Homo sapiens: one gene and its partners. The protein of the gene in region 1 purifies or fractionates together with the protein of each later gene. This does not show direct contact. Each region holds a gene or a part of one and is shown in the gene's direction. Other genes may lie near its edges.

Evidence for each region.
Region 2: the proteins of ITGA9 (region 1) and SMOC1 purify together in Homo sapiens (affinity purification with mass spectrometry, with the first as the bait; one large-scale study listed by BioGRID). This does not show direct contact.
Region 3: the proteins of ITGA9 (region 1) and SPRR2D purify together in Homo sapiens (affinity purification with mass spectrometry; one large-scale study listed by BioGRID and IntAct). This does not show direct contact.
Region 4: the proteins of ITGA9 (region 1) and PCYOX1L purify together in Homo sapiens (affinity purification with mass spectrometry, with the first as the bait; one large-scale study listed by BioGRID). This does not show direct contact.
Region 5: the proteins of ITGA9 (region 1) and NGFR purify together in Homo sapiens (affinity purification with western blotting; one study listed by BioGRID). This does not show direct contact.
Region 6: the proteins of ITGA9 (region 1) and ALDH1A3 purify together in Homo sapiens (affinity purification with mass spectrometry; 2 studies listed by BioGRID and IntAct, with this or other methods). This does not show direct contact.
Region 7: the proteins of ITGA9 (region 1) and SPRR1B purify together in Homo sapiens (affinity purification with mass spectrometry; 2 studies listed by BioGRID and IntAct, with this or other methods). This does not show direct contact.

The regions. Positions count from the first base shown.
Region 1 is NC_000003.12:37,458,217-37,462,494, forward strand, and holds part of ITGA9 (integrin alpha-9 precursor), read left to right. Parts: intron 1-4,278. UniProt on the Homo sapiens protein: Integrin alpha-9/beta-1 (ITGA9:ITGB1) is a receptor for VCAM1, cytotactin and osteopontin. It recognizes the sequence A-E-I-D-G-I-E-L in cytotactin. ITGA9:ITGB1 may play a crucial role in SVEP1/polydom-mediated myoblast cell adhesion.
Region 2 is NC_000014.9:69,881,638-69,885,915, forward strand, and holds part of SMOC1 (SPARC-related modular calcium-binding protein 1 isoform 1 precursor), read left to right. Parts: intron 1-3,644; exon of another isoform or gene 3,645-4,278. UniProt on the Homo sapiens protein: Plays essential roles in both eye and limb development. Probable regulator of osteoblast differentiation.
Region 3 is NC_000001.11:153,038,920-153,043,013, reverse strand, and holds SPRR2D (small proline-rich protein 2D), read left to right. Parts: upstream 1-1,893; 5' UTR 1,894-1,936; exon of another isoform or gene 1,937-1,942; intron 1,943-2,648; 5' UTR 2,649-2,667; coding exon 2,668-2,886; 3' UTR 2,887-3,282; downstream 3,283-4,094. UniProt on the Homo sapiens protein: Cross-linked envelope protein of keratinocytes. It is a keratinocyte protein that first appears in the cell cytosol, but ultimately becomes cross-linked to membrane proteins by transglutaminase.
Region 4 is NC_000005.10:149,356,240-149,361,092, forward strand, and holds the start of PCYOX1L (prenylcysteine oxidase 1-like isoform 1 precursor), read left to right. Parts: upstream 1-1,806; 5' UTR 1,807-1,829; coding exon 1,830-1,917; coding exon of another isoform or gene 1,918-1,933; intron 1,934-4,853. UniProt on the Homo sapiens protein: Likely to have oxidoreductase activity. Required in the mevalonate pathway to regulate prenylation and enhances the bactericidal activity of neutrophils.
Region 5 is NC_000017.11:49,501,793-49,505,292, forward strand, and holds part of NGFR (tumor necrosis factor receptor superfamily member 16 precursor), read left to right. Parts: intron 1-270; coding exon 271-412; intron 413-3,500. UniProt on the Homo sapiens protein: Low affinity receptor which can bind to NGF, BDNF, NTF3, and NTF4. Forms a heterodimeric receptor with SORCS2 that binds the precursor forms of NGF, BDNF and NTF3 with high affinity, and has much lower affinity for mature NGF and BDNF.
Region 6 is NC_000015.10:100,878,207-100,883,001, forward strand, and holds the start of ALDH1A3 (retinaldehyde dehydrogenase 3), read left to right. Parts: upstream 1-1,624; 5' UTR 1,625-1,701; coding exon 1,702-1,800; intron 1,801-4,795. Other genes in the region: collagen alpha-1(I) chain-like, read right to left, coding at 815-1,597. UniProt on the Homo sapiens protein: Catalyzes the NAD-dependent oxidation of aldehyde substrates, such as all-trans-retinal and all-trans-13,14-dihydroretinal, to their corresponding carboxylic acids, all-trans-retinoate and all-trans-13,14-dihydroretinoate, respectively.
Region 7 is NC_000001.11:153,029,615-153,033,804, forward strand, and holds SPRR1B (cornifin-B), read left to right. Parts: upstream 1-1,588; 5' UTR 1,589-1,633; intron 1,634-2,712; 5' UTR 2,713-2,731; coding exon 2,732-3,001; 3' UTR 3,002-3,286; downstream 3,287-4,190. UniProt on the Homo sapiens protein: Cross-linked envelope protein of keratinocytes. It is a keratinocyte protein that first appears in the cell cytosol, but ultimately becomes cross-linked to membrane proteins by transglutaminase.

The DNA.
Region 1 (4,278 bases):
GCTTACAGAGTTACACGCCTTGTTCAAGGCCCACCCCAGCCTGAGAGATCAATGCACATTCACTGGGGGCTTGTGTCAGTTTGCATCCTTTAGGAAGCAGATGCTAGGACAGAGATAGGAGTGTGAGAGAATTGTTGGGGGCGGGTATTGCCTGTGAAAGACAAATGGGGAAGTTGGATGGGACAGAGAGAGCCTCTGACTCTATGCAGATCTGATTAAAGTCTCAGTCAACTCAACAGAGATCACTGGGCAGAAATAGCTGTCCTCTGCCAGGGTCAGGTATTGGCTGGAGCTGTCTGGGAAGAGCACAGCCTCAGCTGGAATCCTGCAGCAGATCCCAAGAAAGCTGCAGCTGGAGGCTGTCAGCTGACATTCCGCCTTGCAGCTGAACAGCATGAAGTGACCCACACCTCTGTGGCTGCCCTGGAGCCTGCCACGCGTGAATCACTGTGTTGGGAGGGTGTGAGATGTGCTCCTTGGCCTGCAGTGTGGCTGGGGATCATCTTTGCTCATACCTCTGTAATCAGTGTGTGGAGCGTCAGGACTGACAGTAGGGCCATTGGGACTGGCCCAGAAACAGAATCCTGAGCAATCTTGCCACCAGCTGACTCACAAGGTGCCTCTTTCTGATGTCAGAGAAGTCACAGGTGATGGATTTCAGAAGAAAGGAGCTCTGCTTTACGCTGAGCCACCGAGTTCTCTGAACTGCAAATCCTTTTAGCCAAGTGGATTTGGCGATCAACCAAAGCAGAATAAAATGTTTTATCCCAACCTTCCTTTTTGCCAGAAGGAGTCCTAGGAAGCCGATGTAAGTCCAAGATTGGGAAAAATCTACAGTCTTTGAAACCACGGGCTCACTTGGTCCACCAATGTCTGTTCTGACCAAAAAGGACTTCTGTGTTGAGTTTAAATTAGCAACAGTAGCAACAATAACACCAAAAGCAGCAACAGTGTATCTGAATATTCAGTAGATGTCAAGTGCTATCTACATTGGTACTCATACCAGCTCATTTAATGTTCCCAACAGTCCTTTCAGCTGGTAGCCATTTGGGCTGCCATAACAAACTGTTATAGGTTGGGTTGCTTATAAATGACAGAATTTATTTCTCACAGATCTAGAGCCTTGGAAGTCCAAGATCAGGGCCCCAGCAGATTTGCTGTCTGGTAAGCACCTGTTTCTTGGTTCATAGATAGTGGTGTTCTCACTCTAAGCTCACACAGTGAAAGGGATGAGGGAGCTCTCTGGGGCCACATTTATAAGGGCACTAACTCATTCATAGGTTATATCCTCATGACCTAATCACCTCCCAAAGTCCCCACCTCCAAATAACATTACCTTGGGGTGAAGATTTCAACATATACATTTTGAGGGAACACAAGCATTCAGTCTGTAGCAGCTGGCTATCATTTTATCCCCATTCATGGAGGGGAAGCTGAGGTACAGAGGCATTATTGCCCAAGTTACATGGCTAATGAGTTGTCGAGCACAGGCCTGTGCCTTTGCCCACCCAGGCTGACTGCCTGTCAGGAAGTCAAGAATCCGAGTTTGGGGGCTTCAGGGCGCTCAAACATCTGTCTTGTGAAGTTCTGTTCTGCCTGCTTTCCTGGAAAAGTTATTGAATTGCAATAGCAGTAGCTTCTCTGCGGCACCCTTTGGGGATGCTTATTCATGACCCACTGGCTACTCTTGGGGGGATGCTAGGGTTCTGTTTTCTGGAGATGTTTGATCACTGAGTGAACAGGGACCCAATGATTCTGCCAGGGACATTTGAAGGGCCTCTTCTCACACCAAGGCTGTCTAGCATTAAGACAGAAGTGTCCCAGGAAAGATGGAGTACTCTGCAATATTCCATGTATCCCTCTAACCTCCTGGGGCTGCTTTGTTACTATCCCCCCATCCACTCTGAGTTCTACTGGCTCCCACCACTTATTTAGGAATCTCTGAATTGGGGAAGGTAGCCATGGTGGCCAGTGTTTCAGAATCACTCCTGGGTTTGTAACTTTATTAAAGAAACCCACACAGAGTCAAACTTCTGCACCAGTGACCAACAATATGTGAGAGGATGATTTGTATCCTCAAATATTTGAACACTTAATAAAAGGCATGAATGGGTACAAAAAATTAGAAAGAATGAGTAAGAATGAGTAAGAACTAGTATTTGATAGCACAACAAAATGACAATAGTCAACAATAATTTGATTGTAGTTTAAAAATAACTAAAAGAGTATAATTGAATCACTTGTAACATAAAGGATAAACGCTTCAGGTGATGGATACCCCATTTACCCTGCTGTGGTTATTACATATTACATGCCTGTAACAAAATATCTCATGTACCTCATAAATATGTACCTACTGTGTGCCCAAATCTTTTTTTTTTTTTTTTTTTTGAGATGGAGTCTTGCTCTGTCACCCAGGCTGGAGTGCAGTGGTGCGATCTCGGCTCACTGCGAGCTCCACCTTCTGGGTTCACGCCATTCTCCTGCCTCAGCCTCCCGAGTAGCTGGGACTACAGGTGCCCCCCACCACACCCGGCTAATTTTTTGTATTTTTAGTAGAGAGTGGGTTTCACTGTGTTGGGCAGAATAGTCTCGATCTCCTGACCTCGTGATCTGCCCACTTTGGCCTCCCGAAGTGCTGGGATTACAGGCGTGAGCCACCGCACCCGGACTATGTGCCCAAATTTTTAAGAAAAATAAAAAATCACGGAACAAATTTCCTCCATCTTAGCTGATCTGTTGGTGTGTTAAGGCCACCTGGGAGATGGCCTTTCCTACCCCTTCCTATCTAGTGTCCAAGTGCTGTGATGTATGTGGATCCCAGAGTAAACTTGGTGTTGTGCAGTACACACCAGTAGGCAGCATTGCAGAGGGTCTTGGCACCTCTTTTGCACCAGGATGGGTCCTAGAGGGTGGATGTTCCAGATTCAGCTGAGTAGTGTTCCTGTCTCTACCTTCATTGAATCCCTGGTTCCACAGCAACAACCAGATCCACGATTTTTGTGCCATAAAAGGGGGCACTGCTGAGATGCACAAGTGCCTGGTGGCCAAGAGAGTGGGCTCCAGCATTAGCCCTGCCCTCAGCCTGCCTTACTCAGCTCTCTGCTTAGGAGCTGTGTGATCTTGACCAATTACTTCAGCTGTTTGAACCTCAGTTTCCTTTTCTGTAAAGAGTAATAAGGGTACATCCCTCATTAGGTTGGTGGGGGCATTAAATGAGATGATATCTGCAAAGCCCAGAGCACAACACGGCACACAGTAAGCCCTTGATAGATGCTCGTAGTTATTTCTCTTGTTACTTGATCTGATTTATGAAACCAATGGTCTTTTTCATCCTGACTTGAGATGCTGAGTTTTCTTTCAGTATTTTTGTTGATTCATTCATTTATTCATCAGACTTTGAGTGTTGACACTCAACACTGAAATGAATGAGATATTCTAACATAGACACACTCTTCATTATGTGTGGCCTCTAACATTTTTGTTATGCTCTACATAAATCTGCATTTTTGTGCATTCATTTACACCCTGTCTGCTTCCAAAAAGGATCTGAGATGGCTACTTTAAATGGAGATCTTTGGGATTGTAAATCCTAGAATTTTGCCTGCCTGTTTCTTCTCTGTGCTCTTGGAAAGCCAAGGAGCAGATGGGAGGCCACCCTTGTTATGGGGAGCTCCAGCTCCCACCCCAGGCTCCAGATAAGTCTGGGAGGTAGATCTACAGTTCCAGGATGGGATACTTTTTTAAAAAGTAAATGTAAATGTATTGCCATATTTCTCTTGAAAAAAAATTATCACAAGAAACCAACAAGAAGATATCAAGGCTTTTTCTTAGATCTGCCAGAAGTCTGTAATTTGCTCTATCCCTTGGATTTTAGTGTTCACTTGCTGCTTTCAGATGTGGAAGGAAAACCTCAGTCCTTTTGCCTTGCCTCCTTCTCCAGTTGCCTCCCCTCAGTGTGTCTGCCAAGACCTGAGCCCCAGGCCAGGGCAGCAGCCTCTGACCTTTCACTCCCTAACACACAAGCTGGGGACCAATGTCACTCCAAGGTTGGACCCTGCCCCCGTGCCTCTGCTTTTCCCAGTTGGGCATGGACTCCACCAATTTCATTCTCTGACTTAGCGTTATGTGGTGTGGATTGTACTGCTCTCCCTCCATTTACTGTAACCTAGGCTCTCCAGGATAAAAATTATTATTGCCAACCTTTTATGAATACTTTCTATATGCCAGAACCACTGTGTTCATAGTTCCCTTTATGCAGAGCAGGCTACCACTCCC
Region 2 (4,278 bases), on another chromosome or scaffold:
TCCCTCTTTCTCTCTCTCACTCAAATACATACATGCACAAACACACACACACATGTGCACACACATCTTGGTGTGTTTAGAAAGTACCAAGGAGAAGGTGCTGTCTCGAGCATGTGGTTACCTGGTTGTGTTTATAGATAACAATAAGAGCTACCACTTATGAACATCTGGGCTGGGCACTTTACATGATCTCTTACTCGAACGAGAACAAGAAGTTGGGTCTTTTAAAAGCCATTTTACAGATGACAAAGTGAGACTCAGGGTGGCCAATCGACTTGCCTGAGCTTCCAGTTTATATGGATTGAAAAGTTGTGTGCTCTCCCCACCACCAGGCAGCTATAGTGAGTGTTCATCCGAGTGATGCTGTTTCTGTTAAAGAAAGAGATGGCTCGATGAGAAATACAGAACCCGGATACATCAGGGGAGTCTGCAGAGAAATTGTTAATATTTTTTTGGTGTCTGTATCACTTAAGGCAAATGACTGAATTTCAACCTATCCCCAAAGACTCCAGTTCTTTTCTATGGCTTATTGGGGGCCTCAAAAGTGTAGCTCTGGTTGTTGAGAGCGGCGTCATCCGAGGAGCAGAAACATCTGGCTTGTTGCATTATTCCCTGTGGGCGCTCCTAAGTCTCTTCTGTTAATCTTTTGAGTGACAGAGGCTTAAGGATTGGCATCTTTTCCAGCTGGCTTTCTAGGAAACCAAGAGCATGCCCTTTCAGTTTAACTTTATCTGGCTCACTAATTGAGCTCCCCCGAGGCCTAGACCCCAGTCCTCGCCCCCTTATTTGCTTCCTGCCTTCCTTCATAAAATTCTTGACATTTGTTTGACTCTGGAAACCAGCGGCTATCGAGTATCAGATTGGAGGCTATTATGTAGGAAGCACCTGATTTTGGGGTCTCTCAACTGTGAGTGGTTGCTTGGCTAGCTGGGACGTTGGTCAGGATTCTTTTAATCACTGAGGAGGCAGCCGTTTCTTTAATCCTGCACAATTTACTGAAAATGTTTCAGGGGAGGATGGGATGGGGGAGGGGCTCTCCCTGGCTGATGGTGTCTGGCCGATGGTCAAGCCAACTGCCTGTCTTTGTTAAATTCTGTGTCTCCCTTGAAGATGGAAAGCTGGGTGAAGGCAGGAACTGTTTCTGTCTTGTCCAGGGATTTATCTCCAGAGCTCAGCAAGGGGCCAGACACCTGTCAAGATTTACTTTGTTGGTACTGATGGAATGAACAAATAAATGCAGATAATGTGTGTTTGAGAGTGATTACAGGTTCCACTTTGACTGGAGGCAGGAACTAGATTTAAGAAGTGTGAGAAATAGGAGATGATGCGAAGATCAAGAGGTCTGAGTCAGAAATGGATTTTTATTTTTTAAATTTGACAGATAGCATTGTATGTATTTATTGTGCACAATATGATGTTTTGAAGTATATATACATTATGAAATAGTTAAATCTAGCTAATTAATGATAGCATTACCTCGCATAATTATTATTTTTGTGGTGAGAGCACTTAACATCCACTCTTTGCATTTTTCAAGGATACAATAACTTGTCATTAACTATAGTCACTTTGAATAGATCTCTTGAATTTATTACTCCTCTCTAACTATAATTATGTACCCTTTGACCAACCTCTCTCCTTTCCCTCTCCCCTCTTCCTTCCTCAGCCTCTGGTAACCACTGTTCTACTTTCTACTTCTATGAGACCAATTTTTTTAGATTCCACATATGAGTGAGATTATGCAGTATCTGTCCTTCTGTGGCTGGCTTACTTTTCTTAACGTCCTCCAGGTTCATCTACATTGTTGCAAATGACAGGACTTCATTCTTTTCTGTGGCTGAATAGTATTCCTTGTGTATATATACCATATTTTCTCTATCCATTCATCCACTGATAGACAATTAGGTTGATTTCATATCCTGGCTATTGTGAACAATGCTGCAATAAACATGGGAGAACAGGTATTTCTTCAACATACTGATTTCATTTCCTTTGGATAAATGTCCAGCAGTGAGATTGCTGGATCATATGCTAGTTCTGCTTTAAATTTTTTGAGGAATGTTTTTACTGTTTCTCATGATGGCTGTACTAATTTATGTTCCCACCAACAGTATGTGAGAACTCCCTTTTCTCCATATCCTTACCAGCACTTGTTGTTTTTTGTCTTTTTGATAATAGCCATTCTAACTGGAGTGAGGTGGTATCTCATTGTGGTTTGAATGCATTTCCCTGATGATTAGTGATGTTGAGCATTTTTTTTTTTTTTTTTTTTTTTTTTTTGAGACGGAGTCTCGCTCTGTCGCCCAGGCCGGACTGCGGACTGCAGTGGCGCAATCTTGGCTCACTGCAAGCTCCGCTTCCCGGGTTCACGCCATTCTCCTGCCTCAGCCTCCCGAGTAGCTGGGACTACAGGCGCCCGCCACCGCGCCCGGCTAATTTTTTGTATTTTTAGTAGAGACGGGGTTTCACCTTGTTAGCCAGGATGGTCTCGATCTCCCGACCTCATGATCCACCCGCCTCGGCCTCCCAAAGTGTTGGGACTACAGGCGTGAGCCACCGCGCCCGGCCGAGCATTTTTAAATATACCTATTGCCCATTTCTATGTCTTCTTTTGAGAAATACCTATTCAGATCTTTTGCCCATTTTTTCATTGCATTGTTTTTTGTTTTTTTTGCTATTAAGTGATTTGAGTTCTCTGTGTACTTTGCATATTAACTCCTTATCAGATATACAGTTTGTGAATATGTTCTCCCATTCTCTAGGTTATCTCTTTACTTGGTTAATTGTTTTCCTTGGTGTGTAGAAGCTTTTTAGTTTGGTATAATTTCATTTGTCTATTTTTGCTTTTGTTGCTTGTGCTTTTGAGGTCCCCAAACCAAAGTCATGGAGCTTTCCCCCTATGTTTTCTTTTAATAGTGTCATAGTTTTGGATCTTACATTTAAGTCTTTAATTCATTTGAGTCAATTTTTGTATATGGTGAGAGATGAGGGTCTAATTTCATTCTTCTGCATGTGGATATCCAGTTTTCCTAACACCATTTATTGAAGATTTTCCTTTCCCCATTGTGTGTTCTTGGTACCTTTGTTGAAATCAGTTGTCTGTAAATGCGTGGATTTATTTTTGGGCTCTGTCTTCTGTTCCATTGGTCTATGTGTCTGTTTTTATGCCATTACCATGCTGTCTTGGTTCTATAGCTTTGTAGTTTATTTTGAAGTCATATAGTGTGATGCCTCTGGCTTTGTTCTTGTTACTTTTTACTTTGCTTTGGCTATTCAGGGTCTTTTGTGGTTCTACAAAAATTTTAGGGTTTTTTTTTCTATTTCTATGAAGAACATCTTAGTATTTTTATAGGGATTGCACTGAATCTGTAGATTGCTTTGGGAAGTATAGACATTTTCACAACATTTGCTCTTCCAATTCATGAACGTGACATCTCTTTCCATTCATTTGTGTATTCTTCAACCTGAAACTTATTTCTTAAATGTTTTAGATATTTGTTATTTCTTCTCTCACCTCTTGATCACTTGATTCATCCTTCAAAACCCAGTTCCAACATTACTCTCTAGGAACTTTTCTACAGAGCATTCTTTTTGCTTAGGAACGATTACTCTCTCCTTCGAACAACTTCTTTTTTTTTTTTTTTAAGGAAAATTTGTATTATTTTAATTATTTTTATGTACAGAAAACTCAACAGTGTACATTTAACCCAGTTTAGTGGCAAGTTCTTTAGCCTTTGCCTTTTTGCGCTTGGCGATACGAGCCACAGACTTAGGACCCAGGACATTGCCACCCCAGTGACGGCGGATCTCATCGTATCTGTCATTGTAATTGGTCCTGATAGCTTCCACCAGCTTAGCCAAAGCGCCTTTGTCTTCTGAGTTCACCTGTGTGAAGGCGACAGTGGTGCAGGTCTTCCTGTGGACTAGACGTCCCAGTCTTGCCTTCCCCTTGATAATGCAGTAAGGGACCCCCATTTTACGACATAGGGCAGGCAAGAAGACAACCAGCTCGATGGGATCCATGTCGTGTGAAATCACCACCAGCTGAGCTTTCTTGTTCTCCACCAAGGTGGTGACAGTGTTAACTCCTGCTCGAAGGACAGGTGGTCTCTTCTTCGGGACGTCCCCTTTGCCAGCAGCTTTCTTCTCGGCCCGGGCCAACAGTCTCTGCTTCTTCTCTTGCTTTGTCTCTGGCCTGTACTTGTGGGCCAGCTTAAGCAGCTGAGTAGCTGTTTGGCGGTCCAGGGCCTGGGTGAACTGGTTAATCGCAGGAGGCAC
Region 3 (4,094 bases), on another chromosome or scaffold:
TGGGGTGTCCTAAGAAGGGGAGTCTCAGGTTGTGACCCAAACTGTGTTATCTCACACAGTGATCTCATTTGGCAGCGAATTCTTCAATTTTGCATGGCAGAAATTAGACATTTCTCTATGGATTTATGTTTTAGATGTGATGTGAGGCTCTTGGGGAGTAGTGGGTGATTTATTGAGTAAAGGACTTTTACTTTGGCTGGTGAAGTGCGTGGCATGTGTAATAGTCTATAGGAAGCATTTGGTGAGAACACCATTTGTAATCACCTGGCCTCAGGGTGCTGACATGATGGCTCTATTTCTGTAGTGTCCTGGCCAGTGGTGATCTTGGCTAAAAGCTCTTCCTTACTGACAGGAGCAACAGCTGTTCTGGGAACCTAACCTACTTAACTGAGGGATGTGATGCTGGCTTGATTCAACACTCTGCCCTTCCTGGAGCACAGTTGGTGACTGCTCCAGTGATTTTGAGTCTTTCCTCTTCCTCATTCTCCTTTCTTCTTATTCACTTATAAAACCATGTTCTTGGGAAGCTTCCCGATTAATGGTCCAGATAAGGAAGCAGTAGCAACATCACTTTAAATGTTTAATATACAGTACTTAGAAAGGCTCACTGATTGTAGGAAGCATTTAAAAAAGTTGTGAAAGGACAATCACTAAATGCATTGACAACATATGTGTTAAGTGAACAATATGTACCAAAATGGACAGATGACAGGTATACATTGGGTATGAGTTGATAATCTAGCAGTTTGTGGGACTAGAAGGTTTATGGAAAAGACAAAGGAAGAACATGCAAACAAATTAAAAAACACTGAGAAACATCTAAAACCTGTTTGGAAATAGAGAGGAAGAATACATATTGGATTACCCTTTGTTTGTATTTTCCCCTTGAGTTAAACTTTAAGTGCTCTTACCTTCCTCACTCTGCACACCTACTTCTAATTATTTACATATGATAATGTCTATGCAGCTTGTTCTCTATAGGATGTTCACAGGGAACCATATATGCATGGTTCCATACATAGATTTTGAGTCAATACTTGTAACTTTAGTTTCCTTCTCTCCATTACTTTTTATAAATAAAAAGGCTGTAGTACACATCCTTGATGGCACCAAGTAGCAAACGTGCTGTGGAGACTAGATCTCACTCTCAAATCTGTCCTGGGATGCAAGTGCCTCTACGAATGTGGTGCAGAAGCTACAAATGTGGTGCAGAAGACAGCTTCAAAGAGGAAAGGAATATAGGTAAAAATCTGAGGTTTTATCTGAGAAAAAGGTGGCAAAGAAAATTTCAGTCTTGAACAGGGTCAGCAGATAGCACAATGTGGTCAGCCTGCAAACCCAGAGGTAAGTATTATTGTCCCCTGTTTATAATCCCAGGGAGGAGAGGTGACATGCCTGTTGTCATGGAACTTAGCAAAGAAAAAGCTTAGCTCAGGCCTTTGTTAAGTCTCTCCTTCCTTCTAGCACATTGGCCAACTGTATGAGGAAAGTAGAGGTAGAGTTGGGTTCATGTACAACAATATGGCATTCAGCTAGAGTGGATCAGGACAGGAAGTTTTATGACTCAGGGGAGGTAAGATAGGAAGGGATCATTGTTCCCAATCAAGAAAGAGAGCCCTTGACAACCGGTTAGAGAATCCCTCCAATTATCTCTCTGACGAAAGTCACTGAAACTGAGATCTAAGGCAGGTTCTCTGTGACTCATGAGCACTTAACCCAGTGGGGAGATCCCAGAACAGGATATTTCCTAGTTTGAGAATGCCTCTCATGCCAGATATGGATACATTTGCATTTTACTTTGGACATTGCTGGACCAGCCCAGTTTTAGGCAGTTCCACTTCCCACTGGGTGGGGCAGAACGTCCTATAAAGAGGTTCCCTGCTGCACAACTCTTAAACTCCTGGTACTCTAGCACCGATCTGCTTTGGAGAACCTGGTGAGTGTGAGTCCTTGAGTTCCTCAGTTCTTTGTGACCTGAAATATTGAATTTAATCTGAAAACAGCAAGTTTGGTTGATACAATTCTGTAACCATGGGTTTGATTCTACTTAGTAGATGGAAATTTAGATTTAGAGTACAGTGATATGCTATTTTAGCTTGTTTCTTGTATACAGTTAGGTGTCCATACGGACAGAGAAGTTAATAGGAAAGCTTTGAATTGAAGAAGAAAAAAGAACAAAGTATTTTTTCCCCATGTTTTCCTGGTGTCTTTTTCAAAGGTTTGTGTCTTAACAGGTGCCAAGAGCCTGCAATCCTTCCCAAACAGCCCTTTGTTCTGTGCTCAAGTCAACCCACTGGGACTTTACTACAGATAATGATAAGAGAAATGGCTTGTGAGATTGCTCATGGTATCTGAACTTGTCACTGCCTTTCCTAAAGATGTTATTTTCACAGAAATAACATGCTTGGTTCATTACTACAGAGATATTTTCTTTGGAAAAATTGTATGAGAAAACACAAGATTTCCCAGGGCCAATGAAGCAATTTGCTAAAGTGGAAGGGAGAAACGAAGTAGTCTTGAAAAGGCAGTTAAGAGTTTAAATAATTTCTTGGAGATGGGGAAATAATATTTCATGGTATTACATAAGCATTAGCTTCTCTCTCTGGAGGAGTCCCTTCCCACAAACACTGTTGTATCATTTCTTTCAGATCCTGAGACTCCAGCAGGATGTCTTATCAACAGCAGCAGTGCAAGCAGCCCTGCCAGCCACCTCCTGTGTGCCCCACGCCAAAGTGCCCAGAGCCATGTCCACCCCCGAAGTGCCCTGAGCCCTGCCCATCACCAAAGTGTCCACAGCCCTGCCCACCTCAGCAGTGCCAGCAGAAATATCCTCCTGTGACACCTTCCCCACCCTGCCAGCCAAAGTGTCCACCCAAGAGCAAGTAACAGCTTCAGGATTCATCAGGAGCATGAGAGGATAAGGATAATTGGCTCACCTCGTTCCACAGCTCCACTTGCATCTTCTCACCAAAGCCTTCCATGGATGCACAGGGAGCTTCTTTCTCCTTAACCTGTGGCCTGCCTGTGATGATCTGTGACAGCAAAAGATTCCCTTTCTGAGGCTGCCATACTGCCACTGTCCAGGTGGAGCTAAGAAAAGGAAGTCCTCAGCTGTGCCAGCTCCCAGAGCTTCGGAAGAAAGAGCAGCAGCTCTCTCCCTGGGAACCATCAGACAATTCTGTTGATGTGTTCTGTGTCTGTCTGTCACCTGGTCATGAGCTTCTACCACCTTTGCAATTGTCATTTATCTTTCACTCCCTGAATAAAGTATCTATGCATATATATTTGTGAATGGATCTTTTGTTTCTTTTAGAATCTGCTTTATTAGTAATATTATATGATTATTTGGATTTTGTTCTACCTTTCTCTGATCCCCAGGACCAGGATTTCACAATTATTGTTATCTGAATTTTGGGCCATAACAATGATTATTTTTATATCATTTTAAACCCCTTTTATTTTCCTTAATTAGTGTTTGATTGATTTGAAGAACAAATCAATCAGAATTTTAATCTCTTCATTTTAAAATGTGGAAAATAATATTTATATCACTAACTTATCTTAGGCATAAAATGGAATTAATATCAGGAATTCAGTTGACACAATTTCTGACATATCATTACTACTCATTTGATAGTAGTCTATTAGCAGCAGTACATCATCATTAAAACAGAACTATTATTTGACCCAGCAGTCTCACTATTGGGTATATACCCAAAGGAATATAAATCATTCTACCATAAAGACACATGCATGTGTATATTTATCGCAGCCGTGTTCACTATAGCAAAGGCATAGAATCAACCCAAAAGCCCATCAATAGTAGAGTGGATTTTAAAAATGTGATAAATATACGCCATGAATTCTACACAGCTATAAAAAAATTAGATCATGTCTTTTGTAGCAAAGTGGATCAAACTGGAGGCCATTATGCTAAGCCAACAAAATCAGAAACAGAAAACCTAATACCACCTGTACAGCCATTGCGGAAACCAGTATGAAGTTTCCTCAAAAGTTAGAAATAGAAGTAATATATGATCTTGCAAACCCACTACAGGGTGTATACCCAAAAGAGACGAAATTAGTATATCAAA
Region 4 (4,853 bases), on another chromosome or scaffold:
AATTTGAACACTAACATGATTTACCCTACAAAAAAATGACAAGAATCAGAATAAGTTCATAAGAGAATTTGGCACATAGTGGTCAATGAGTGCTTGTTTTAAAAACTGTTTAAGGGAGTATCTTGAACCTTTGGAAATGAACTTAAAAGGTGTTGCATCCTGACACAAACATTGCCAAAAAAAAAAGTTTAAGATTATGACAAATGCATGATTATTCATCTACCAGTTTACTAGTAGTAATCCAGTTTGGCCCAAGTAAATTAAGTCTCAGTGCTGAGTTAGAACCCCAGCTATAAGCTCTTTCACCATTCTCTGAATCACTTCAGTTTTTTGTTTTTGTTTTTGTTTGAGTCAGAGTCTCGCTCTGTCACCCACGGTGGAGTGCAGTGGTACAATCTCGGCTCACTGCAACATGTGCCTCCCAGGTTCAAGCGATTCTCCTGCCCCAGCCTCCCGAGTAGCTGGGATTACAGGCGCACACCACCAAGCCCAGCTAATTTTTGCATTTTAGCAGAGATGAGGTTTCACCATGATGGCCGAGCTGGTCTCGAACTCCTGACCTCAAGTGATCTGCCCACCTCGGCCTCCCAAACTGCTGGGATTACAGGCATGAGCCACTGTGCCCGGCCCAGTTTCTTATTTTAGCCATAATCTCACTGAGTAAATATGGATTTCATTTATTTTTATATATTTATTTATTTTTAAAGACAGGGACTCTTGTCACTCAGGCTGGAGTGCAGTGGCACAATCATAGAACACTGTAACCTCAAACTACCGGTCTCAAGCCTCCCACCTCTGCCTCCTGAATAGCTAGGACTACAGGTGTGCACCACCACTCCTGGCGAATTTTTTTTTTTTAAGAGACGGGGTCTCAGAGTCTCATTATGTTGCCCAGGCTGGTCTCAAACTGCTGGCCTAAGCGATCCTCCCGCCTGACCTTCCAAAATGCTGGGATTACAGGCTTGAGCCACCCCCAGCCTCCGGATTTTCTTTATTCTGAAACTCATCCCTAACTTTATTTTCTGCCAGAGGAAGTCTGTTTTTCACAGCGTGATAAACTAGCAAGTCTGAGCTGCTGCTCTTGTCTTCTTAGAGGATGAAAATGGGAGTTTATCCCTCCTTTTCTCCTTTCTGAAAAGAGAGTAGATGAAACCTTCCCCCGCCTTTTGGTTTTTAGGAAGCAGAAAGCAGAGATATTAACTATATAAAAACTGCAAACACATAAATAACAGCAGTATAGAAAGCATAGGGCTTGTGTCAGCATATGAATGAGGTAGCGTCTTACCACCCTGGCCGCATGCTTGGTCAGCAATTTCCAGCACTTGCAGACACTGCAAAAGGCTTCCCTTATCTCATAAGATGGTTACAACCACCTAGAAAGGTGGAGCAGGATTCTTCGTCTGTGTTATAATAGAGGAAACAGACACAGAGAAGATACAGAGCTAATAACGCAGAGGCTGGACATAACCGAGGTCTTCAAAGCTTCACTTTGGTCTGTTTCATCCCTCTGCCGCAGCTGGGCCCTGGTCCTGATGCTGAGGACCCGAAGCGGGCACACCTGCGCCGGGCAAGAATGAACCCAGCCAATGAGGAGCCCGCATGCGGGGGGCGGGGCGGAACGGGGAAGCTGCCAATGAGAGAGCCTACCCCGAGAGAGATGGAGCTAATGAGGGCCTCGTGCTGGAGAGGGACGGCGGCTTGGCCAATGCGGAGCTGGGTCTGGCGCGGCAGGAAGGCGGGACTGCCAGTGGGGCGCCGGGGCGGGGCGGAGAGCCGAGCGCCAACCCGCTAGCGCCTGAATCCGGCGTGCTGCCCGCTCGCCGCCCGCCATGGCCCGCGCAGCCCCGCTGCTCGCCGCGTTGACCGCGCTCCTCGCCGCCGCCGCTGCTGGCGGAGATGCCCCGCCGGGCAAAATCGGTGCGGGAAGGACGCGGTGGGGTTCCCAGCTGGGGAGGGCCGGCGGGTAAAGGGTTCTCAGTTCTCAGCTAGGTGGGGTATAGGAGGGCGGCTGGGTGAGGGAGGGGTCCTCGGAAAAGGAGCTGGGTGGAGGAGAGGCGCCGAAGGGGACGCGGCAGGGAAGGTCCTGATGGGGCCGGGGCATGGCATGTGAAGAGGGCCACCTAGGACGGAAAAGAGGCCTGGGCAGGACTGGCCGCGGATCTCACCGGGAGGTCCAGGGTCGCTGAGCATCTGCCATGGTCCTGGCTGTTGGCTAGGCGCCCGGGTGACAGAGGACAGAGAGGCTGGGCGATGGCATTCACAGAGGTTGGTTGAGGGCTCTCTGTGTAGCAGACGTGGTGCTGTAGTTCCTGCTGGGGTAGAGCCCTCACAGTACAGGGAAGTCCGTGCTGAGCTGAGGAAGTACGGTGCATGCAGAGGAGGGGCGCTTCACCCTGTCTTTGCGGCCCTGGGAGGGCTTCCTGGAAGTAACATCTAAGCCAAACCACCCCCAGGTCGATAGGAGACAGTCCTGGCAGAGACAGAACACTAGGTCCGCTGGAGATTTGCTGACAGAACGGGGAACTTTTAACAACAGTCTTTTTGTTTATTGTGTGTGTGGTTTCCCCAATACTTTATTTTGAAAATGTTCAGATGTACAGCAAGAATTTTATAGTGGTCATCTGTATACCCACCACCTACATTCTGCCATTAACTGCTGCTATACTTGCTGTGTCACATAACTATCACGCACTGTTCTAGACATCCACGAATCCAGCCTACATTTTGATGCATCTCCAAATAAATTGCAGACATCAGGACACCTCACTAAATACGTCATCGTGCATATCATTGACTAGAGTGTCATATGTGTTTACAGTTGCTTTTTTTTTTCCTCCCTCAACAACTGTCATTTTAACTACATGACTCGTGAAGATTTTCAAGTCCCTCACACGTGATATTCCCACAGGCAGAGATCCTGGGCTTCGGGGTGGGAGGACAAAGACTCTATTCCGCTAGGCCACTCTCCATGCACCCCAGTTGGCAGGAGTGCCTGGAACATCTGATAGAAGCATCACAAACTTACAGGGTCCAGTGCAGTGCTAAAGCTTCTTGTGTAGCAGAACCACAGCCCAGGCCATACAGGGTTAAGAAGACTGAAGCATGCCAGAAACCAGTTTGAGACTGAGAGTTTAGTGCTTGCCAAGAAAAGAGAATCCTGAGGCTAGAGTAGCCAGAGAAGCCCTCATGGAGAAGGTGGAGTTTGAGCCAGGCATTGAAGGATGTGGAAGAGTTAGGCAGGCAGTATCCATGAGTGACCATGTGTTCTCTCTCTGTCCTTAGATCGTTTGAATACAGTGTGGCTAGGAGTAAGCAGAGTGTGCTGTGGGAATATGCAGGGCACTCCCCGTTTTCTTAGGAACAGGCAACAGGACAGGACATTTCTCACCATTGGGGAAGGAGCAGGACCTCCACCCAGCAGAATTGCTGCATTGTGGCAACATGGAGCTCTCTGCCTCCTTCCTCCCAGCTGGCCCTTCTGGCCCCATCCAAGAGTCATCCAGAGCAGGACACTTGGCAATGCCTCACTGCCCTTCAGCTTTCTAGATTTTCCTCAGCCCTCTGACGGGAGCCTCTGTTCATCCTTGGTGGTTTGGACTCTACCCACAACAAGAATGCGGATTCCTGTTAGGATGGCTTAATGCTTGTGCTTCTGCAGGACCAAATCTGAGAACCCCCAAGTGGCATCAGGACCCTCTAAACCCACCCATATAGTTCCATATGCTGCCCTTCTCATGCTGGTCTCTTTGCAGAGTGTGCGTGTCCTCTCACTGACAAAGCTGATTGTCCTCCAGCATCTTGCATGAAATCTTATTTCCCCAAGAAGGCTGTGTCCCCACACCCTCTGGGGCAGAATTCACTGCTTCCCCTTCAGGACTCCCTGGAACCCTGTTGCACTTCATCATGGGTTGTCGTTGCTAATTGCGCAGGAGTCTGTCTGCCCATTCCATGCTGGGGTCCTGGGGGACAGAAGCCTGTTTGATTTTTCTTTGTGCCCCAGGACATCTTACTGTAAATTAGAGAATTGGTGTCAGTTGTGTTAAATGAGCTGGTTCACAATGAAGTGGTGTCTTCTGCTTCCTGATCTTGGGCAGCTTCTAGGCCTTAATATCAATTTCTCTGGAAAAATGGGTAATTTGGGACTCTTTGCACATGGAGGGGATGGGAGCACACTGGTTAAAATAAAATCCAAAGCTGTCTTGGAAGTGGCTTTGTAAGTACTGTGAGAGGAAGTGGTTTATTCTTTCAACACAGAAAAAATACTTCATGAACTCTACTGTCCACCAGGATCTGGGGACATAGTGATCATGCACTCTCTCTCTGTCCTTAAATAACTTGACTACAGTACGGCTAAGCAGAGTGTGCTGTGGGAATATGCAGGAGGAACACCTGACTCACCTCAGGTGGGTCAGTCAAGCCAAGTTATAGGTGACATCTGAGGGCTGTTGAAGCCAGTGAGACACAGGGTGATGGCACTCCTATCAAAGGGAACAGCTCGGACAAAGGCCCAGGCATGAGAGAACAAAGCTATGTGCCCACAATAAGAGAAGCCTAGACAGACAAGAAGGTGGCATCTTGGGAGGGTAAAGCAGGAAATGGAATAAGTAAGCAGAGGCCAGATCATAGAGAACCTGGTGCTGTCTGAGGATTGCCTGTGACTTCTGGCAGGAACTGGTACTCTGTGGGTCCAAATGGGTCCAGTAAGGACAAATTACACCAGATTTATTTAATTTTCTTTTGGGGTAAGGCCTCTGGACTGTCTGATGAGAAGAGAGTGGTGTTTCAGATACATGGTGAGCAAAAATTATAGGTAGGGTGGTAGTCCAGTTCAGTAGCTTCATAGCTGGTTTATA
Region 5 (3,500 bases), on another chromosome or scaffold:
TTGCTGTAACCCCAGGATGAACTTTGCAGAAGGTCAGCAGCTGAAGCTCTGACCTCACACCCCCAGCAGCCTGCACGGGCACACTGTCCCTCACTTGCCTTTCCCCTGTCAGCTTTGATGTTCCTAACGCCTCCCTGGTGAGCTCATCCCAGCCCAGGTGGTTCTAATAGAAGGCAGTGGGAGGAGGGTGTTTGATTCCCCGGAAGAACCCCCCCCAACCCACCCCAGCTTTCTCTTGCCAGTCTGACCCTCCGATCTCCCTCCATCCAGGTGTCCCTTGGAGGTGCCAAGGAGGCATGCCCCACAGGCCTGTACACACACAGCGGTGAGTGCTGCAAAGCCTGCAACCTGGGCGAGGGTGTGGCCCAGCCTTGTGGAGCCAACCAGACCGTGTGTGAGCCCTGCCTGGACAGTGAGTAGAGGGTGGCGGGCAGGAGGAGGGGAGAAGAATGGGAGGGAGGAGAGGGGTGAAAGGGAGGGGCGCTGGGGAGAAGCATGCCCAGTAGAGGCCTTATAAGACCACCACTGTAAGGTCATCAGAAGTGGGTCTGACCCAGTGTAGGAGGCGCTTCTCCCAGATTCGAGAAGCTGAGAATGGAGAAGGGAAGTGTGCAGAGGGAGGAGGGGAACCCCATGGGGGATCTCCAAGGGGTGCCCATTCCCAGCTCTGGAGAAGGCAGAGGCTTGGTAGAAGAGTGTGGCTGGGCAGGGAGGAGTAGCTGATGCTAAGACCAGCTAAAAATATCATCTGCACTGCAAAATCAATGGCTGCCACTTATCCCCGGTGTGTTTGGGGGAAGGGAGAGGAGGATCAAATCCTGGCTGCCCTGAAGGCTGACCTTGGGGGATCCTGGGGGTGTGGCTGTTCCTCCCTACAGGCCAACTCTTCTCCAGCTTTGACCAGGAAGCAGAGTTTTCCCGAGGCAGCAGGGATGGGGGTCAGAGCGCCATGAAGACGTCCTTACTGTGGGGTGACAGAGGGGAGGGGAGACGGGGAGCTGTGCCCATTCCTGCCTGGGATTTCTTCCTTCCTTCCTTCCTTCCTTCCTTCCTTCCTTCCTTCCTTCCTTCCTTCCTTTCTCTCTCTCTCTTTCTTTACCTTTCTTTCCTTTCTTTCCTTTCCTTCCTTCCTTCCTTCCTTCAACAGAGTTTTGCTCTGTTGCCCAGGTTGGGAGTGCAATGGCATGATCTCAACTCACTGCAACCTCCACCTCCTGGTTTCAAGTGATTCTCATGCCTCAGCCTCCTGAGTAGCTGGGACTACGGGTGCATGCATGCCACCATGCCTGGCTAATTCTTGTATTTGTAGTAGAGATGGGGTTTTACCATGTGGACCAGGCTGGTCTCAAACTTCTGGCCTCAAGTGATCCACCTGCCTTAGCCTCCCAAAGTGTTGGGATTAGAGGCGTGAGCCACCGTGCTCGACCCTGCCTGGGATTTCTTTCAGGAGGGGAGAGAATCTCATCTTCCTGGGCTGGTGGGTCTGGGCCCCTTGGCCCCAGTCTTGTCCAGGGTCTGAATTCCCTCATGCTTTTGAGTCAGGAGTCTCGGTCCCTGATCGGTGCCCCCAGTCCTCAGTTGCTGCCTTTGGGCCGTGGGCTCCCTGCCCTTTTCCTGACTCCCTGCCTTCTACCTGGCACTCGATGCCCACCTGGAGGGCTCGAGGGAACCATACTCAGATTATTCTTTAATCCGGCTGGGAATAAGGGGATAGAGCTGGGGCCTCTGAACCCACCTGCGGACCTAGTGTTACCTCTGGATGTCCCCCCTGAGTCTATCTGTCCTCCAGGCAACCCCAACTCTTGGTGTTCCCCAGACACACTGTTTTCCCATCTCTGTGCTTGTGGATCCTGTAACACCATTCCCCAGCCAAGAAATGCCTGGGCGTATGTGTGGAGGTGGGACATCCTCCAATGCCTTTGCCGTCTTGCTTCATGGCCACCTGCTCTGGCCCTGGCCTAACAGGGTTTCCATTCCAGGGCGGGGGTGGCCAACCATCAGCTATCCCAGAACCTCCAAATCTGCCTCTCTTGCTTCCTAGACTCCAGCCCAGGACTCTCCTCCCAGGACCTAAATGATGGGAACCCTTTCCCTTCAGTCAAAGGACCTTCAGCAGGAGGTGGGGCGGAGGACACCAGGAGAGGGAAGTTCCAGAATCTCTGGAAGGGAAGGGAGGCAGGCAGAGAGGTGGCTTTGAGAATCCTCCCTTCCACTTCCTCCCTCCCCTCCATTTTCCCCTCCTTCCCTGTCTCCCCCTCCTCCACCTCCAGCTGCATTAACAGGCTGCCTTTACAAGCCCACTTTATGGGACGGAGACCCCAGCGGACTTTCCCTCTACCCTTAAAACGTTTCCACAAGGAAACCTATTAAGCCCCTGCCTTCATTCTCTGCCAAAAAAGACCACATTTTTCACACCACCTAAAACCCTCTCCCAGGAGTTTTCTGCTAATTTTCTGTGTTTTGCCATGAGCAGGCTTCTCCTCTTCCCCTCCTGTGTGACTAGACTTACCCTCCATCACACGCCAGCCAGCCAGGACCCTCTTGTTTGTATAGCTCAGACATCCTGCCTTTGCTGTTTGTGTTTGGACGTTCTTTCTGCTGTCTGACCATATTCCTACCTCCAAAGTTCAATGTCCTCATCGCTCTCCACCCCCATGGGGCCCAATCTTTATAGGATCCCAACTACGTGCCAAAGCTTTATGGCTGAATTTCATTTATTCCTCACTACAACCCTGTGACTGCAGATATTGCTCCTTATTTTTACAGAGAAAGAAAAAGCTCAGAGAGGTTAAGTAAAACACCCAAAGTCACACAGCTTATAAGCGATGGAAATGGATTTTGAATCCAGATCTGCCTGCTCCTAGGAAAAGGGACACAGGGTTCCTCTGTCAGAATTCACTTGAAACTGAAGTCTCCCTCCAGGCCCTTCTTCCTGGGTCTTTTCTTCTCTCCTCTACCCTTTTTCTTTCTTTCTTTCTTTTTTTTTTTTTTTTTTTTTTGACAGCGTCTCACTCTGTCACCCAGGCTGGAGTGCACTGGTGCAGTCTTGGCTCACTGTAACCTCTGCCTCCCATGCTCAAGCAATCCTCCCACCTCAGCTTCCCGAGTAGCTGGGATTACAGACGTGCACCACTACACCCAGCTAATTTTTGTATTTTTTATAGAGATGGGGTTTTGCCATGTTGGCCAGGCTGGTCTTGAACTCCTGGCCTCAAGTGATCTGCTCGCCTTGGCCTCCCAAAGTGCTGGGATTACAGGAGTGAGCCACCACGCCCAGCCTTTGTCCCCAGTTCTGCCCCTTTCACTTCTCTCTGGCTTTTCCTTCTTTGCCTCCTCATCCCCCCACCACACCCCCGAAGCCAGTGACCCCTTGCTCCATCTTGTCTCTGATGCCTTTGAATAATGTTGAGACCCCCCTACAGGCCTCAGTTTCCCCCTAATGGCGCTTTAGCCTTTCTGCTTCTGCTTCCACATTCTGAACAATCTGTCCTTCCCTGGTT
Region 6 (4,795 bases), on another chromosome or scaffold:
GGTTTGTCACTACTCCCTGACGGTCCTCTTGGGCTCAGGCACCCAAACGCTAGGGCTCAGCACCCAGCCGGGGGCCGTGGCATAGCACATCTGCCCAGATGTTTTCAGGAGATCTGAGTGGGAGCCATGGGGCCAGCCAAGAGGGCAGGGAGCCCCGGATTTGCAGAAGCAGCTGAGGAAAGAGCTGGCATTGCTCAGACTCGCCAGTGTTAGCCAGCCGATATCGGTCAAGGCTGCCCCGCTCGAGGGTCCATTATCCCCTTTCCCCGGCCTCAGCTGTGCACTCCAGGCCATAACAGCACAAGACCTTTCCACAACCCCAGGGTAAGGGTCAGATGTGGGGTTTCCAAAAGCTTCAAAACTTACCCCTCTATCCAGCTCTATCCAGAAGGACACCAGGGGACAGAGAGATGGACACGGAGGCCTCAAAACAGGAAAATAAGGAGACCCCTCCCCATTGTTGATTACTTGGGGTTACCTACAGAAAGAGATGAACTGAAGGGGCTGAGCCTATCTGAGGATTAAAGCACAGCTTTTGTCAGGAGTCCGTGCCTCCGGTCTTTGTTCCAGCGACCTGAGGAATGGCATGCATCAGAAGCCGCTTCCGTGTCTCAGATGGGGCCTGGGTCAAGTCCTGGGAGTTGATGGAGCGTTTCCCAAATCGCAAAAGGAGAGGAGCTAGACTTACCTCCCCCTCCTGGGAAGTAATGCGCGACAAGAATTTAAACTCTTAAAACGATTAGCAGCAAAGGTCTCATGTGCTTTTTTTTAATTATCATTTTTTAATCGAGGTATAATTTATGCATTTAAAAAATCAGATCAATTGCCCCCCGGGCTCTGGGATGGAAGGCGGTGTGCGCCTGCGAAGGTCAGAGGCCCAGCGGCGCCAGGGCTCCTCGGCGGAGAGCCGCCCGGGTCCGGCGCTTTGCTTTCGCCTTCTGCCCCACCGCGGGCGAAGCCCCAGGGCCCCGGGGAGACTCCAGGCCGGCTGGGCCGGGGTGCGCCCGCCGGCTGTCCGCGCTCGGGCAGGGTGGGGCGCAGCGGGCGTCTGTCCTGCTAGCGGGGATCGGGCGGCTGGACCCAAGAGCAGGGCACGTGCGCAGCGACGCGGGGCGGCCCCGCCAGGAGCCCCGACCCGGGCGCGGCGCAGGGCCCGGCGGAGAGCGCGCATTCCCGAGCGCCGCGAGCCGGCCGAAGTCGGGCGAGCGCGCCGTGCGGCGGCTGGGAGTGGGCTGCATGTGCCGCGCGGGGAGCCCGCCCGACTTCGGGGAGGCAGCGGGGCGCCGTGGCCCCGCGGCTCAGCTCCCTGCCGGGTCGGGTGTCCCAGCCCTGCGACTTCCGGGGCCCGGCGGCTCCTCGGGGAGCTCGTCCACAGGCAGCCTCCGGGGCGAGAGAGCGCGCGGCGCGGGCGCCGGGACGGTCCGCGGCACGCGGGTGGAGCCGCCGGCGCTCGGGCTCCCGCAGGGGCGGCGGGCGGGGCGGGGTGAGGCGGGCCGGCCGCCCTCCCCTCTCCTCCCTCCCGCAGCCCGCCCTCCCTTCCTCCGGTCCCGCAGCCAATTAGGCGGCCCCCTCGGGCGGGAGGCGTGGGGCGCTGCATAAAGCGGCGGGGAGCTGCCACCCCGGGAGCGGGCTGCGCAGTGTCCGGGCCGAGCCGGTGCGCCGCAGACTAGGGCGCCTCGGGCCAGGGAGCGCGGAGGAGCCATGGCCACCGCTAACGGGGCCGTGGAAAACGGGCAGCCGGACAGGAAGCCGCCGGCCCTGCCGCGCCCCATCCGCAACCTGGAGGTCAAGTTCACCAAGGTGAGGCGGGCGCCCCTCCCACCCGACGGCCGCGGGCCCCTGCGCTGGGCAGCCAGACTCGGGGCGGCGGGGGCGAGGGAGCAGCGGGCCGGGGGTCCGCCGGGCGCCGCCGAGACCCGAGCCTCCCTGCCCGGGCGCGGCTCTCCAGAAACCGCACCTTTCGCGGGACGTCTCGGGCGGGATCGCAGGCGGCGGGGCTCGGCGCTGTGAGCCTCGAAGCCGGGAAACCGAGGCCGTCCAGCGCCCGCGCGGGGCCGGGCCGCCCGCATCCCTGCGAGGCCCCGACGTGTCCCTGCGCTGCCCGCTTTGATCGCGAGTGGAGGTGCGCGCCGCGTTGACTCGGAGCGCGCTGGTTTTGGGGAGCTCCCTCCCCAAAAACCCCTGCGATGATTTCCAGGGTGGACGAGTCTGGCTTTGAGAGGGTCGGAGGGTCCGAGAGCGCCAAGAGAGAGTCCGGGAGGCAGATGGCGGAGCTGCAGTTGGAAGACTGGGGAAGCGGGTCCTCCGAGCAAAGCGCAGCGGGCGCCTTCCGTGCTTAGTTTATACCCGGCTCAGCAGCAGAACGAGGAGGAGTAGGAAGGTGCTCGCTTACTGACGAAACCTCCCCGGAGCCCAGAGGTCCCGGTGTTTACACACAAGGCGCGCGCTCCGGAAGGTCGCAGACCTGGGCCTTTGGGAAGCGGTGGGTCGCGAGGCCGCAGAAGCGCACGGTTCTCTGCCTCCTCGCTCTGTGGGCTGGGAGGCTACAGCGTTGGCAGAACGGCGAGATTACCTGCCCGGGGCAGAAAGGAATAAAAGAAGATGGTGAGGCCTCCGAGGCCTCTGAGCTGGGGCTGAGGAGGGCCGAGAGACCCGGGTCCGGGAGCGCGACCCGATGGAGGACACCCCCAGGCTGTCTGGCGTGCGCGTCTGTCGTGGGCCGGTGCTGGGGCACTTTAGAGGCACAGGCCAGGCCGAGAGCCATTGCCTTAACTTTCCCCACCTTTGGCTTCTCTTGATTTTTGCTTTTACCCATAGCCCCCAACTCCAGCTGACACCGCACTTAGAGAATTTCCTCATCCGTTTTACTTTAAGAAGTAGCAATTATCTTTCTCAAAGAATTTTAATCAAGCGGAGAAAGTTGCAGGGCACTATGTGTGGCCTTCAGATTTGGGTCTCTTGGCACTTAATTCCCAATGTCGGCTGAGCCTCTGATCACAAGACATTTAAATTAACTGTTTTCAGAAGGCTCTGTAATCAACAAAGACACGTCGCTGTAAACTAAACGCTGGAAATTATTCTTAATGTAGTTTTATTTGTAATATCAGCTTCAGAGTGAAAATTCCAACACGAATTCTGGGAAGAGTGAAAATGGTACCCGAATTTTGTAAGACCCTAACCCCAGGTGCTTGGCTGCTGCTACTGATGGTTAAGTGGGGAGGTTGTTTGTTTTCTTTTGGTTGTACAGGATTTCAAAATACTGTATATAGAAACCAGACAGTAAATGTATTATGGTCCTTTTACTTTTTATGTTTTTGAGTCCTATCAGCAATCTGACCACATACAAAAAGTTTACCTCTTTCTCTATGATTTTTAGGACACTTTTAAAGTGTAGATGTAGCCCTTATGGAGACCTTAGACAATTCACAGAGCAATGGTTGCCTGTTGTCTTGGTGGGTGCGCAACCTTTGCCAGTTAAAGGGAACCAGTGCAGGAATGAGGCTGAGGGAAGCTGGTGGATCGGCCTGGAGTGCTGGGATCTTGAGTGGTCTCCCAGGCGATAAAGGCCCCAACTGCCTGACACCGGCTGCTGGCTCCTCACCCGTTGGGGGACTGTGCTGCTGCCTGCTCTGTCCTGGCTCCTGGCCCATCTCTGCAGAGACCTCCCCATAGCAGTTGTGGACCCAGGCAGCTTGTGTGGCTGAGGGTGGCCAACCAGTGCCCTGGCACAGTCCTCAGGGAGACTGGACTGGAGAGGCGGCCGAGAGTGAGGCCACCAAGAGTGCCTGCCGAGGGAAGGAGCGGGATAAACTGAAGTGCAGGACTGAGGCCCAGAGTGGGCGAGTGGCCCGGCAGGTGGGTGGCCTGGCAGGAGAGCAGACGGTGGAGCATGGGAGCCAGCAGTGGTCTGCTATTTTCCAAAATTGACTCATGGTGCTTCTCGATAATGGGGCACACACCAGAGTTGGTCCATCTGAGCCCTAGCCCCGGCAGTGCCATTTCCCAGGGTGGTCCAACTTTCAGGATGACTTTGTCAAAGCCCCTTCATTTGTCCTCACATGTTAACATTTCATTCTCTAGGGTCATGCTGTGTGATTCTGGAGAGCTGAGAGCCCCTCCAGGGTCCCCACACAGATCTCAGAGGATAGAAGTCCCTTCTAATTTAGAGGGCCTCTTTCTTTCCTTATAAAATTTCTTCCAGTAGCAGGGATTCTCTTCAAAGTTTTCTGATTTTTAAAACACCGGTTTTTATTATCTCTCTTATGAAAAATAAAATTCCCCCAAATCTCCTTTTCTGAAAACATATTCTTTTTGAGTTTAGCTGAGTGGCCTGTTGTCAGATGGAAGTTACGGGAAATCGGCATCAATAGGATTCACTTGTATGACTGTCATCTTCACCTCTGCCTGAGACACCTTACAGCTCCGTCCTGCTTCCATGTCATTCTGTTCCTTTTGTAAAATGTGAACCAGGTCTACAGCTCAATGTAGCTTAATGCTATACCTCTATAAGGTTTGTTGTATGCTAATCCACAAATCAAAGACAACAATTCCTTCTAGACCCTTTACCCTGATTTGGAGTTCAAAACAATACAGCCAGCATAATCAGTAGACCATATTTATATACCCTTTCCTTATATTTGTGCTTTTGTTTTGTTTTAATGGAGAGAAAAATCAACAGTAGAAACCACTTACAAGATTACTTACTACTGTAGTGTGGTATAAAGTAAAAGATTTTACAAAATTAAAAACATAGTGATGGGAAAATATGGTTAGAGTCAAACAGTCTGATTTTTTT
Region 7 (4,190 bases), on another chromosome or scaffold:
ACTTACAGTTCCACATGGCTGGAGAGGCCTCACAATCATGGCAGAAGGCAAGGAGAAGCACATCACATCTTATATGGATGGCAGTAGGCAAACAGAGAGCTTGTACAGGAGAACTCCTCCTTTTCCAAAACCATCAGATACCTTGAGACGTATTCACTATCATGAGAACAGCACTGGAAAGACCTTCCCCCATGATTCAATTACTTCCCACCGGGTCCCTCCCACAACACGTGGGAATTCAAACTGAGAGTTGGGTGGGGCAACAGCCAAATCATAATGGATAAAATGACAGAAATATCTGTCTCTTGCTAAGCTCTTACAGCTTTTCTCAGCTTATACCATGAGGCCTGCCACAAGGAAGGATTTCCCCTATAAAAAAATTTCCTGATAATTCTCAAAACAGCCTCTGGCGTCTCTTCACGAATAACATCATCCACCCATCTCTCCATCCTTCCATTCATTCAGTTATTCTATAATTGTCAATTCTCTGAGCAGCTACTACACACCAGGCATCACGTGAAGATGGAAGGTAGAACAATGGCTAAGCAGAGGAACTTCTGGTGGTAGCTGGCTGGTCCTGGGCTCAAGTTCATGAGAGGTGACACAGCTGTGCAGCCAGCAGTTGCTCTACAAACATTTAGATGAGTGAAAATAATGAGGGAGGGACCATCCGACACCTGGATTTGAAGGATAGTTTGGATTTTCCAAAAACCACACTTGCAACAGGTTGTGTACTGCAGGTAGACCTGGATTAGTGACCTAAGTTTCATCTTATCTTGAGGAGAGTGAACTTTGATATAAGGGCTCAGGGAATCCCAGCTCCTTTGTTCCTTCCCATGTTGGCTGCAGAGAAGGGATTCCCCATGATAGCCAGGGTCTTCAGGGCCTACTGTCACAATGTACAGAATAAATGGATGGACTAAAAGGGCCAGGTTGCTCCAGAGCTTCCGAACGTGACCATTCTTCCCAGAGTTTCACTGCTCCGAACTCTCCTTCACAGACTGAGGTCAGCCTGCCCCTATGTTGTTTACCCTGAGTTCCTCCTTGGAGAAAAGGCTTTTTAGAACCGAAATAATCATTTTAGTTTTTCCTTTCCCCTGCCAGGCACGAGTATACTGAGTGATGGATTAACAGAATATTACTATTTTTCACCTAGCCACCATGCCCTTGGCCTCCCAGAATAACCAGAAATACCTATTGTTTATCTCTACATCCACTTCATATATTAAACAGCCCTACAAGTGTCACCTGTGCTGAGGATTAGACTCTTCCAGAAGATAGGACAGTTTCTGGTTCCAGCAGCCCCAGAATGTCTTCCTTCTCTCTCTTTCAGCCCACACCACCCTTCCTGTAAACACTACACCTGGGAGCAAAGGGTGTTCAGGGGGATAAAGCCCAGGTGACATCCTTGTCAGACAGCAAGTGCCACAAGTTTCATCACAAAAGTTGAGTCAACAGGTGGGTGAGGGAAGAGGGGTGAATCACATCTGACAGGTAAGGAATGTAGGCACAGCAGCCCAGATGGATCCTGTTTCCTTGAGGCAGGGCTTGTTCCATGCATAAAAAGCCAGTTGGCTGGGAACACTACACCAGTTCTAAGGGACCATACAGAGTATTCCTCTCTTCACACCAGGTGAGTCTCTTTACTTGGAACTCTTTAGCATCCATTCTAGGTATTTAATTTTTATTAGAGTCTCCTTGGCATTCTTGGTATTTTTTTCCCTCATTATTGAATTTGATCATAGCCATGCAGACTGTTCAACTGAATTATAACCTCTAGGAATATCTTCATTTTAAAAGTGTTCATACTGTAGGCTTGAAGAGAATTTAGACATTATCAGTTCTTCATTCACTCTTTCTGTGTCAGCAAGAAGGGGGTTGGTTTATTCAAGGATCCATAGTAAGTTTGTAATGGGATAATGACTAGAACCCAGGTCCACAGCACTTACCCTGGCATTATAATTCCTTCTTATTTATAATTTTAATACAGAGAATTTTATTCTTTCAACAGATACTTTTGTGAGAGCTTACTATATTTGGCAATTTGTTTGCAAAGAAATAATTTAAGCATCTATGATACTACAATTTAATCAGGAAATAAGAGCTAAAATGCATTGTATAACAGTAACTTATCAGTGCCAGGTGATTAGGGCAAGTTCTGTGACAGTTTGGGAATAGAGAGATTTCTGGAAGGTTTTTTCTAGAGAAGCCACTAAAAGTCCCATATGAAGCGATCTGTGGAGTTTGGTTAGTGCTTGAATGAGTAGGAACAAGGAAAACATTTAAGACAGAGGAGAACTTGAGCCAGGCCACAGGTGGGATTGCTTGGGGTTCTAGAGAGGTCAGAGTTATACAATAGATGATAAGCCATGCTATTTATCAGAAATGAGTGAGTAGATTTAATTTGTTAGGGTTTTTTTTTTCCAAAGAACCTCACATTTCCAATGGTCCAGTATTATGAGTCTCATATTCCTGCTAGAAGCCTGTTATTGTGCTGTGTAGGAAGAAAGAGAGCACCAGGAGAGGCCCTGCTCCAGTGGAGCAAGAGCAAATCATCTTTAGGTTCCTCTTCTTCAAAGGCTCAGAAATTAAATTAAGTATTCTTTGTGGTCAAGAAGGGGAAAGAACATAGCTTTTTAAGAGACCAGAAGTGGTATTCACCATGGCTTCTTCCCTATTATTCTCTGCTTAAATCATCTGTTCTGTGTCCAGGACCAGTCACTGTTGCAGCATGAGTTCCCAGCAGCAGAAGCAGCCTTGCACCCCACCCCCTCAGCTTCAGCAGCAGCAGGTGAAACAGCCTTGCCAGCCTCCACCTCAGGAACCATGCATCCCCAAAACCAAGGAGCCCTGCCACCCCAAGGTGCCTGAGCCCTGCCACCCCAAAGTGCCCGAGCCCTGCCAGCCCAAGGTTCCAGAGCCATGCCACCCCAAGGTGCCTGAGCCCTGCCCTTCAATAGTCACTCCAGCACCAGCCCAGCAGAAGACCAAGCAGAAGTAATGTGGTCCACAGCCATGCCCTTGAGGAGCCGGCCACCAGATGCTGAATCCCCTATCCCATTCTGCGTATGAGTCCCATTTGCCTTGCAATTAGCATTCTGTCTCCCCCAAAAAAGAATGTGCTATGAAGCTTTCTTTCCTACACACTCTGAGTCTCTGAATGAAGCTGAAGGTCTTAGTACCAGAGCTAGTTTTCAGCTGCTCAGAATTCATCTGAAGAGAGACTTAAGATGAAAGCAAATGATTCAGCTCCCTTATACCCCCATTAAATTCACTTTCAATTCCACTCTTGACTGTGTGTCATTGACTCTACAACTTCATTCCTTTCCCTCGTGAAGCGGGAGCTGTACACAGAGATGAGTTGGTGAAGAAGGGCTTTGTCCAGAAGGCATCTGATGCTCACATTAGGAGGGTGAAGGGCTGCCCCCACAAGCATTCCTGGGCTGCCTATGGGAGGTTGTGTAATGCCACCTAGAGGCTGTTGCTTTGGGCATCCAGGGCTGGAAAAGGGCTCTCCTCTTGCAACTCAGTGAGTCATGCTAGAGTTTAGTTAGCACTTGTCTAAGCTGACTCTGACTCACTAATCCTGATTGCCTTCTCTCCAAATCTGGCTTTTAGACTGCTAACTTACCAGCCAATTCCTGTTTATTTCAAGTAATGTTGTTCCTACATATGCTAACCTGCTCCTTCTCACTCATTTCTCTGATATCTACAACCTAGATTTCCAAACACCTCCAAAGATGCACAGACTCCGTTCTTTATCTCAGTTAGTCATTTCTAGTTTCTGAGTGCCAACTCTGGACCTGAAACAGAACAAAGGGGATTTAAGGTGCTTGCCAGGGGCATTTACAGTGCCCTGGAGGGATATACTTCACTCCCTACCCCACCCCTCATTCAAACACACATACACACATATACAACCACACACACAAGATCTGGAGTCCTCACAGAGTAATGCACAAAAGCTGATCCAGTTTGGAGACTGTTTCTTTCACATAGGTGGGAACCATGGAAGTGAGAACTGTAAAACCCACCCTCACCCCTCTCCCTGTAGTATCAACATGTTTCAAGTCAAATTAAACAAGATAGAGTTATCAACAGTGTATTCATATATATATGCATATATTTTTATATTGATGGAAAAATAGGTTGCTCTTGTATGTAACTGGGAGACAAAGCAAGTTGTTCTG